2 separate regions of the Homo sapiens genome follow, and region 1 is linked to region 2. The links come from fine-mapping of genetic effects on plasma protein levels. A gene starts in region 2. The other region holds a variant in brackets. All regions are shown on one strand. Distances are between the middles of the regions. Region 1 holds the start of CCL8 (C-C motif chemokine ligand 8). Region 2 holds the start of CCL7 (C-C motif chemokine ligand 7).

What was found. PIP is the chance, under the fine-mapping model, that this variant and not a neighbour inherited with it causes the effect. Protein levels are from the aptamer-based SomaScan assay of Sun 2018.
Region 1: its variant is fine-mapped to the plasma level of the CCL7 protein (Sun 2018, PIP 0.95).

The regions. Positions count from the first base shown.
Region 1 is chr17:34,317,798-34,323,121 of GRCh38, reverse strand. It overlaps CCL8 (C-C motif chemokine ligand 8), which reads right to left and starts at 3,687. Exons shown (of 3, transcript NM_005623.3): 1 at 3,545-3,687; 2 at 2,736-2,853; 3 at 1,720-2,320. The coding sequence starts at 3,620. The coding sequence ends at 2,215. The variant T/A (reference allele first, on the strand shown) is at 2,784.
Region 2 is chr17:34,268,213-34,273,585 of GRCh38, reverse strand. It overlaps CCL7 (C-C motif chemokine ligand 7), which reads right to left and starts at 3,365. Exons shown (of 3, transcript NM_006273.4): 1 at 3,220-3,365; 2 at 2,323-2,440; 3 at 1,344-1,889. The coding sequence starts at 3,295. The coding sequence ends at 1,784.

The DNA.
Region 1 (5,324 bases), 50 kb before region 2:
AACTGGTAAAAGGGATGGCAGAAGCATTTGAACATCTGCCTTCACCCTTCACTGTGGACGGTTACCACCCAAAATGTTCACTCTTCCACACTTCTGAAACTTGGACAAGTGTGCAGTGGAGTCAACTCCTGACCCAAGATGACACCCAGGAGAAGCCTGGGGGCAGCAAGTGAGAAGTGAGAAGAGGCAGAAAGCAGATATTGAGTGAATCAAGTGAGTCATGGACTGCCACAAATGGTCAGCCTTAGCTGAGGGTGAAACTGAGGTGAGCCTGAGGTTGTATGTCAGCTTTGAGTGACCTTTCCAGGTCTTTCCCCCAGTTTACAAGACAGCAAAGCAGGGCTTACAGATCTGAACCAGTTTATGGAAGGATGTGGATTTTTAAAACACATATATTCAAGTCAGGGCACATAAAACATCAACCACTTAAATAAGATGACATGTTACTTAAGGTGTATTATGCTCATTGTCATTTGAAATATAATGACATAATCCCAAAGTGAAGCTGGGTAAAATTTGAGAAGAACAAATTTGTGTCTTTTTGCTGTGGCCTGGTGTCAGTTTTGTGTGAGTGTTCTTGCCTTTAGAATTTGGGATTTGTGGTCCAGGATTTCATGAAGCCCAGGACCCACATATCTGTGCCCAATTGACCTTGAAGCTATTGAAGAAAGAGCTTAGAGTTTGATGGAGCTTTTTTGTGGACCCTGCCTGGGAGGTGCCCCTCTAGTCCATCTGACACTTAGCTGCTTTATTGCTCTTGGAACTGTGGGTGTACTACTTTGAACTTTAATGGAAAGCTTGTCTCCAAATAAGGGGTATCTGACTTAGATGTGTTTTTCCAATAAGCTAGGCCCTGGCTGCCTTTATGGCTTTAATCCCAGGAACTTTATGTCCCCACTCTACCCCAGACAACAAACATGACCTTGTTTCTAAGAGACATGGCTCTAGAGCTGGAGGGACTTGTGTAGTCATCTGCTAGATCCTCTCACTTCCTGCCTGTGACACAGTATGATCCTGATTTTTGGATGGGGCATCTTAATGCTGAAGGGAAAAATTATGTCACCCTAAGTGACCAAGAGAGTTAAGGTTACTCTTAGGAGCAGAACCCAAATCTCTTTCCTCTCTATACTTCCAAATATACTGGAATTGTGGCACCTTTACATGAACATTAACAGTAGGCCCTGCAGAGTTGGTTCAACAGTACAATAAATTTGTTTGCCTTAGACGTGTTTTCCCAATAAGCTGGAAAAATAATAAGCTCTGGTATGTATGGCTCAATATGGCGGGTCACATGTTTGTAAGAAGATTCAGCTAAGCTCACTAAGTACAGGGGAATCTTGACCTTAAAAGGCTGTCAAAAAGAAGAGGTTCCACGCCTTTAAATGGATGCTTGCAAGTTCTTGGGATTGGGGTTGGGGGTAGAGTGATGGAGATTATCTTAGTCTTTTTGGGCAGCTATAACAAAATACCTTAGGCTGGATAATATATAAACAAGAGAAACAAGAGAGGCTAGCGAATCAGGGCTGCTGAAGTTAGGGACTAGAGTCAGAGAGCTGGAACATCCTGGCCTGGTCCCACCAAGTTCTCTGAGAACCTTGGTTGAGTCCAGCGTAGCCAGAAGACATTCTTGAAAAATGGCCCGTCCATGCCCAAACTGTCACCCATGATGCCCAAAACTCACTCCCAGCTAAATGTTACCCCAAGAAGAATAAGACTAAGTAGTTTTAAATTATATATATTTTTTTCTTTTTGAAATTTTTTTTCAAAATTCCATAGTTATATACAGTAACATCAATTTCAACAACAGCAGTACAAAGCACACATTTGACTTACAGGAGCACTGATTGCCAAAGAATACCAAAGTGTTTCACCTTGATGATCCATGGGAGGACCCCACAACACTACAGACAGGTAGGAGGGAGAACAATGACATTTTGCCGTGAACTTAGTTGAGCTCACAGGAAAACAAAAACAAAAAACACATCACCAGGATTTTGCATTTTACATTCACTAGGATGTATGACAGATAGAGTTAAAACATCAACAACTTAAATATAATTAAATACTTTTTAAGAAATATTATGCTTTAAATTATTTAAAAATAATCTCTTTGTGGATGTTATAATAAAATAATGTCACACTGCACCTGGGGGAGGTTGGGGAAAATAAATAAGCTTTTCTTCAAGCTCTGACTCTCAGTCCATGTATGAAGGCTCATGGCTTCAGATTTTGAAATATTTGGTCCAGATGCTTCATGGAATCCCTGACCCATCTCTCCTTGGGGTCAGCACAGACCTCCTTGCCCCGTTTGGTCTTGAAGCTGTGGGGGAGAGAGGGCACAATTAGATGGAAGACTTTGAAGATCCTGCACAGGACTGTGGGCCATTGGTCCCTAGAACTGATCAGCCCTTGGTCCTTAGGTGAAGGACCCGGACCCGGGAGAGGAGGGAGGGGAAGAGTGGGAGGAAGAAGCTCCAGAAGGAAGCTCTGCTCTTGCTGTCCAGGTGAAACCCTCCAGGGTCCTGGCTACAGATATTGGGTTAGTTTCACCAAGCCCCTAGAAGGGAATCCTAGAGCAGTTATGGACTCCTTCTCATGGACTGAGTTTCTCTATGGGGTAGAGGGGCCCTTTGGATAGAAGTTATATGCATCCGACTCATATGGACATGAATCTTGACTTCTCTATGTTGTCCATCAGAACTTTTGAATGGGGGTGCCAGGCACTGTCCACTCACATCACAGCTTCCTTGGGACATTGGATGTTGGTGATTCTTGTGTAGCTC[T/A]CCAGCCTCTGGATAGGAATTTTCCTATTGATCACGTTAAAGCAGCAGGTGATTGGAATGGAAACTGAATCTGAAAGAAATTTTGCAAAGAATGAGACATTTAGGACCCACCGTAAGTGTGCATTTGTAAGGAAAAGAAGAGAAGGAAGGAGAAGACCAAGAAGTCACCATCCCAAGTTCAGTGTCTTAGTCCAGATCCCAGAGATAAAATGTTGCCTGTGAGTCTCTTTCCTCTATTGAACTCTGCGGCCCGTCATTGTTGACTGGGTTTGGAAACATTTTGAGTAACAAGCTAGTCCTTGTCTACTAACCCAAAACTTCTGACACTGGGAACATAAGTTCCAATACCTTGCTTCCCAGTCTTTCATCCTCATGGGCTTTAGAGTTAGCCTATGCCATACGCTGAGATTCCTCTGGGTCCTCATCCTCTTTACACAGCCACTGTTCTGGAAGGTACACTGAACCATAACCAAAATTTGAAGCTTCAGGCAATAGTTTCTCCCTCTCCACTACGGCCTGAAATGTCCTTTACACCCACAGTGAGAAACAGTTCTTCGTTCTGGATTATTTCCCCAAACAATGGGAGGGTTGTTGCTGTAGCGGCTCCACTGTCTCCTCCCAAAACTGGGGTCAGGAAAGATCAAGGGAACCAGCCTCAGTGACCTGAGCCTTTAGTTCTGGTTTTGTTCCTAATGAGCTGTGACATAATGGCTCTTCTTAATTCCTCTTTTGGTCTCCCCTTAAAAAGGGAGAGGTCTTACCTGGCTGAGCAAGTCCCTGAGGGCTGAAAGTGGCTGCCATGAGCAGCAGGCACAGAAGCGCTGCAGAAACCTTCATCTTGGAGGGCAAGGGTGTGAGCTTCAGCATGAGAGGTGAAGGTTTCTGGGTTGTTCTCAACCTCTCTGCTCCTCGGTGGCTCTGCCTGCCTTTTATAGGGAGCAGAGAGCCTGGGCATGGTCACAATCAAGGAAGAATGAAGTAAGACCTTCCTTGAATATGCTGAGTAAGCACCAGATCCTGGGATAATTTCCAGATAACAAAACAAGGAAGTTGTGAGTTTCTATCTTTTGCTTAGGCTCTGTGGAGCAGAGGCTGAAGGGTATGGGATTGTGCTCAGCAAAGTGACCTCACTGAACTATTAAGGGCTCTGATTTCCTTGAAATGGAAAATTGTCTATAAGAAAGGAAGAATGGAAGCTGACGTCATAGTGGAAGAGAGCCAAGGGCCTACCCCTCTGTGGGTAACAGGAGGCCAGGGATGGGCCCTAAGGCTTTGCTGGTGCTCTCCATCACACTAGAGTCACTTGCAGTTCTAAGCCAGGCAAGCTCCTTTAGAACCCCAGCCACAGAACGTTGGCAGAATGACAGAATCCTGGAACTAAGTCTTAATGCCCCAGAATCTTACTGTTGCAGAGGGTAAGAACTAGACAGCACATGCTGGTCTTGTAGCATGGTGGTTTCCAAACATTTTATTTAGATGCTCAAGTTTCTTTCCAAATGAAATTATATGGAGAAGTCCAATATGTCATGGAGATTCAGGTGGAATGGGTCCGTCTGCAGAAGGCCTTCCAACTCTCTTGGTTCACACACAGTGGGGCTGTGGGCGGGGCGTGGCAAGAAGGAACCAGGTTTGCAAAAGACTGACCTCATCTACTCCCCCTGCAGGCCTGATCTATCCATCATTACAATATCATATAGAAGTTTTCCTGCTCTAAGAATTCACTGTATTCTTCTATTCATCCTTTTTCCTCTCCACAAATCTCTGGCTACCACTGATCTTTTTACTATCTCTGTGAGCTTGTCTTTTCCCAAGTATCATATGCATAGTTGGAATCATATAGTAGGCAGCCTTTTCAGACTGGCTTCTTTCACTAAGCAATATGCATTTAAGGTTTCTCCGTGCCTTGTTGTGGTTTGATAGCTAATTACTTCCTTTGTTCTTTATTCATTTATTATTTTTATTGTGGTAAAAATGCACATACCATCTTAACCATTTTTAAGTGCATAGTTTAGTGGCATTAAGAACATTCACACTGTTGTGCAACAGTCTCAATAACTCTTTTCATCTGTAAACAGAAATTCTATACCTATTGATCTCCAGTTTCCCCTCCCCCAAGCCCCTGGCAACCACCATTTCTACTTACTGTTTCTGATTTTGACTGCTCTAACTACCTCATGTGAGTGAAATCATATAGTATTTTTCTTTTGTGACTGGCTTATGTCATTTAGCGTAAGGATCTCAGGGTTCATCTATGTGGCAGCATATGATATGCTACATATCCTTAAGGCTGAGTAATATTCCCTTGTATGTATATAGTACATTTTATGTATCCATTCATCTGTTGAGGGCTCTCTATTCTGTTCCATTGATCCATTTGTCTATTCTTTCACCAATACCACACCGTCTTGATTACTGTTTCCTAATAGTAAATCTTGAAGTTGGGTAATGTTAGTCCTCTGACTATTCTTTTTCAGTACTGTGTTAGCTATTCTAGATCTTTAACCTTTCCATATAAACATTAAAATCAGTCTATCACATCCA
Region 2 (5,373 bases):
CATTGCTGGTGTAACTAGCCTAATCTTTGAATCCCATTGAACTCAATGCCCAGTTATATACCAGCCTCTCTGTTCCTGTTCTTTCTAATTCTCTGTGCCCAAGAGTACAAGGCCTGCATGAAAACACATGATTTTATAATTTTTTGAAAATGAAGTTTCAGCAGATTCTGTTTGACCTTGAGCACATGTAGCCCTTCTCTCCTTTCCTGTCCTACCATCAAACACTCTGCTTAATATTTGCATGTATCAAATACTGTGTCTCACAGTATCTATTCATTCACCTCTACTCCTGGTCTGCCTGCTGGTTGTTCTCTCCTGGAATTTAAGATTACCCTCCTTATTGGTGTGAAATTAAATTAAATAAGTCAAACTTCAAATAATTTAAACTTAAAGCTATTAGGACTTTAATTATTCTGAGCCTTGAGAGGAATGTGGCTATGCAATCTGAGTTGTGTGGCATGCACCTACAACTTCTGCATTTTTGCTGTTTCCTGTAAACAATTAAGAAGACTGAGCCATGGCAGAGGTAAGACCCCTCAGATCATTACCTCTCCTTAAGGAATAGCAAATAATCTTCCTTAGAACATAGCAACCTATAACCAATCAAATCACTGTGGTGTATGCACCTTGTCTAGTATGAAAAATGTTGTAATCTGGCTGGAACTTCTGTCTTTACTTATGTAACTGAAACTTTTCCGGTTGTTTGGAGTTGATGCTTTTCCAAGTGGCCACCCTCAAGCTTTGTCCTTGAATGAACTGAATACTTATTCACATTTTCTGAATCTCATTGTTTAAGGTTGACTTTGGTGTTTGGGGGTGAGAACTGGTGGGCTGAAGAAGGGGTAGAAAGGGATGTTGGACTTGGTCTGAACACCAATGGTGGCAGAAATCAATGATGGCAGGCACTTGCCAAATCATCTGTTGGTCTCCTACTTGATTTTTTAATGAAAGTGACATTTGTATTTACTAGACTAGAGGATTGATTAGAAGGGGGAAAACCAGCCAGTCACAAGGCTGATAGAATAGAAGAGGGGACAGGCTTTTGGGTAGAGCGTGGGATGGTGAGAAAAAGAATGAGTTTGGGAAAAAAGAAAGGTATTTGAACAAGTGGCTGAAGCAGATGTCAGATCTGGAGCTGGGGGGTGGGTTCATCTGGCCCCAGCCTGTGGCTGCCTCTCCCTAACATGCAGGTGAGCCTGGCCTGGGGGAAAGCCCAGAGTCCATTACGCGCTCATTTCTCCACAATGTGAGCCCAACCTCTGCAACCACGCCCTTCACCTTGTCACCCTGTTACCCCCACCAGCTTTATTACTTTATCCTTTTAAAAAACCATGAATGGCAGCTGTTATACAAAAATCTATTTTATGTGAAAATTTGGGAGTCATACATATGCAAATATGTAATTATATAATAACAATATGCTTCCATAGGGACATCATATCTTAACAATTAAAGCAAATCTTTGCACTGATTCTTGCAAGGACTTATACAATACCCCCATGAGGTAGAGAAGGGAGGAGCATCCCACAGTTTTTACAGCACTGAGATGACATATACATCCAAGGCTTTATGTTCAAAACCCACCAAAATCCATGGAAGATTAAATTAAAATATTAATAACTTTTAAAATCTACTAAGAAAAACCATGATTCACATTATTACATAAAGCTCATATTCCTTAGAATTAGATTAAAATAATCTCAGAACCACTCTGAGAAAGGACAGGGTATACAAATTATTTGTTTCTCAAGTCATGGCTTGTTTTCAGTTCAGTCATGAATGTTCAAAGCTTTGGAGTTTGGGTTTTCTTGTCCAGGTGCTTCATAAAGTCCTGGACCCACTTCTGTGTGGGGTCAGCACAGATCTCCTTGTCCAGTTTGGTCTTGAAGCTGTGGAGCAGAAAGGAGACAGTCAGATGGAACACCTTGAGGGTTCAGCCTGGGAGTGTGACCAAGTCTATGGGAAATCTGTCTAGCCCATCAGCCTAGCTGATGGGGATGCCTCAGGGATGAAGGAAGAAGATAAAACAAAGGAAGGGGACTCAGAGAAGCAGCTCTTTTTGGTAGCCCAAGTGAATCTCTCTTGGTTCCAGGATGAAGGAACGAACTGAGATGTAAAATGATAGCTGGAAAGGGAGCTGAGAGTGAGAAGCCACTTTCTTTACTTGTATTGTTTCTCACTGGCAAATGTCTGGGATAAGGTTAGAGATGCTGTATGCATCACAGTATTTGACTCCAACTCATTCTGATACTAGTCCTATTCCCTGCCCAGGGAAGAACCTAGGACTGAGGTGTGAGGGGTGGGTGGTCATCGTCCACATACATTACAGCTTCCCGGGGACAGTGGCTACTGGTGGTCCTTCTGTAGCTCTCCAGCCTCTGCTTAGGGATTTTCTTATTGATAAATCTGTAGCAGCAGGTAGTTGAAGTATTAATCCCAACTGCAATGAAACAACAAGAAGAAAAGTCCATTGAGGGTGTGTCCTGGGTCTTTCTGTTTGTAAAACAGGGAATGGTAAGAAGAAGGAATCAGAAAGAAAGGAAGAGGTGGAGGGAAAAGCTGCCCATCCCAAACCCAATGTCTCTGCCCTTTGAGGCATTTCATAAACTCCCTTTCACTTTTATGGACTGTGAAATAGGGATGCACCATCACCAGTTGAAAGACGGAAGAGGAATTGATGGCTACTCTGGGCATTGCTAGGAGGGGCTAATATAATAATCCAATTCCTTAGAGCAAGGGTACCCCAACTATGGATCCCCTTTTAGGCTCTGAGCATTCAATGCTTGGTCATGAGTTTCCCTGATACGTACCACCTCTGCAGAGCTGCTGTTTCTGGAAGCTGGGCTTCCACAGACCAGATTCTGGGTCTCCCGGTATCTGGAAACAGCCCGCACACCCATCCCCAGAAGCCTCCTGTCTTTGATCACCCTGATCCCAAATTCTGCTGGAAGCAGCTGGAGTGGTAACTGCACTGAGGGTGTTCCCAGAGCTGGAATCCTAGAAGGAGCTGGATTTGGGGTTCACAGCTGGAATTCTAGTTCAGGCTCTACCCAACAGCAGCTGTGTGGTTGGGCTCACCCCTTATCCTTTTTCTAAGTTACCTTATCTTGGAAAAGTAGCTGTTAAAGTGAGACTGTGGGTATCAGGTCTTCTTGATTGGTCCAGGATAACCCAGAGAGGGGGCAATGTGCTTCAAGGAGAAGGAGAGAGGGACCTTACCTGGCTGAGCAAGCCCCTGGGGGCTGAAAGCAGCTGCTGTGAGCAGCAGACACAGAAGTGCTGCAGAGGCTTTCATGTTGGAGGGTGAGGGCATGGGCTTCCACATGAGAATTGGAGGTTTCTGGTTTGGTCTCAGCCCCTCTGCTCCTCTGGAAGCTCTGTCTCTGCCTTTTATAGGAAGCAGAGAGGATGAATCATAGAATGGAGTAATAAATCTATGGAGTAATAAATCTGCTGAGCCAGTGCACTTCAGTGGGAGGATAGGAAATGACAGTATGAGTCGAGGCTAGCCTGTTTTTCAGCTAAGACCAGGAGTGGTAGGTGAGGTAGGGTCTATGTAGAGGAAGACCACAGTATGTAATCTATGGCTATTATCAAGAGACCAGTTTCTCTGAAATGAGACACATTCTATAGAAAAAGGAAGGAATCAGGGATACCAAAGTCAAAGATATGTAAGGGATATTCCCCTTTTCCCTTTGGAGTGGTATCCCTAGGACACGAGTCCACAAAGAGACATTCAAACTTTGGTTCAACTCTACAAAGGACTCAAAGATTCTTCACTGTCTTAAATCCTGGTGGCTTTCTAAAACCCAGAGAAAAGTAAAATAATAGAACATTAGCAGAAAAATAAAATTCAATATTCTTAGAATAATAGTACCTAAAATTGTAGTGTCTATTTCAATAATCTATTGCTGCATAGCAATCTATCTGAAAACAGTGACTTAAAACAATAACAATCTTCTGGGTTTTTTTGCTCTTGACTATATCACAAGGCCTTCATTCAGTGTCTGGGGTCTGGGCTGGGAGGACTTCAACAGCCAGCAGTTGGACCAGATGGAATTTCTCAGGTGTCTCTCTCTCTCTCTGTATGTGTGTGTGTGTGTGTGTGTGTGTGTGTGTGTGTGTGATCTTTCCAGTGGTCCCTCCACATGGCTAGATATTTTGCATGATGGCTTAAGGATCCCAGGTGCAAGGTTAGGGAACATAGTCATACCTCTTAATGGGAAGAGTGTAAAATAATTTGAGGATATGTTTTAAAACCACTATTTGTTTTATAGGCTATCGGAACTGCACAGCATATCAAGATCTTAAAATACTGTGTTTCTAAAACATCTAATGAGCTGTGAAAATATTTTTCCAAGTAAAAGAATATAGGGAAGGCAAATTTATCGACAAAATCAGAGACCTTCAGTTTGAATCAGAGACAAGAGACTTCTTGTCATTCTTCCCACACACATATCTCAGAAATACAAAGAATAAATTTTGGAAACCACTAATCTAGCTCCTCATCTCACATACAACTAGCTCCTCATCTCACATACACATTACAAAATCACCAACTAATCGCCTTCCATATCAGTGAAAAGGGGTTTGATGAGAGACCATGGGTGGGGTCCTCATGCCTATAACTGGGCCATGGATCATGGACATGGAATGCAAAAAAGGAAAATTATTCAATGGGGGAATTGAGCATTATACAACTTTGAATATTAATTTGGGAGCAATGCAAGGCTTTGATTCTGGTTTTAGCTTTATGTCGTTTTATCTTACCCCTATGACTTTGCTCAGGCTACTCATTCTCTCGATTATCTCTTTTTCAAATTGTTTTTACTCCCAGCTCCAGAAATTGGTGAAGAGTTGGCCTACTTTCTATCTCCTTATTTATGGAGTCTTCCCAGCTCACTCTAATGTAACACATTAGAACAGCATATTTTCTAACCCAGGGTGTACGTTCCATCCACCTGATGCTTCTAAAAAGCAGAATCCTTTCCTTTGACTTTTCTTTCTTTTTCTTTTTTCTTTTATTTTGGAAGACAACTATCATGGATAACCTGCTGAATGATCGATGAAGTTGGAGTAGAACACGGGGGTCCTGCCCAGACAGGTCAGGAGCTCAAGGAAGTACTCATGGGTTCCAGTTGGTTAAACCTTTTTCCTTCAGAAAATCCTTAAGTGAAGTACCCCAAGATGTCCCTGCCTAAGATCCCAGAGAAAATGCCTGCTTATATTTATGATGGAAAGACCTGTACCTGTCACCTACAAGACCTGGGAATGGTAAAAATAAAAGGCTGCTGAATTGTTGCAGAATGTTGTAAAAACTTTTAAATAATTTAAAAACAATATAAGCTGGTTGTAGAAAATATGGCAAAATTA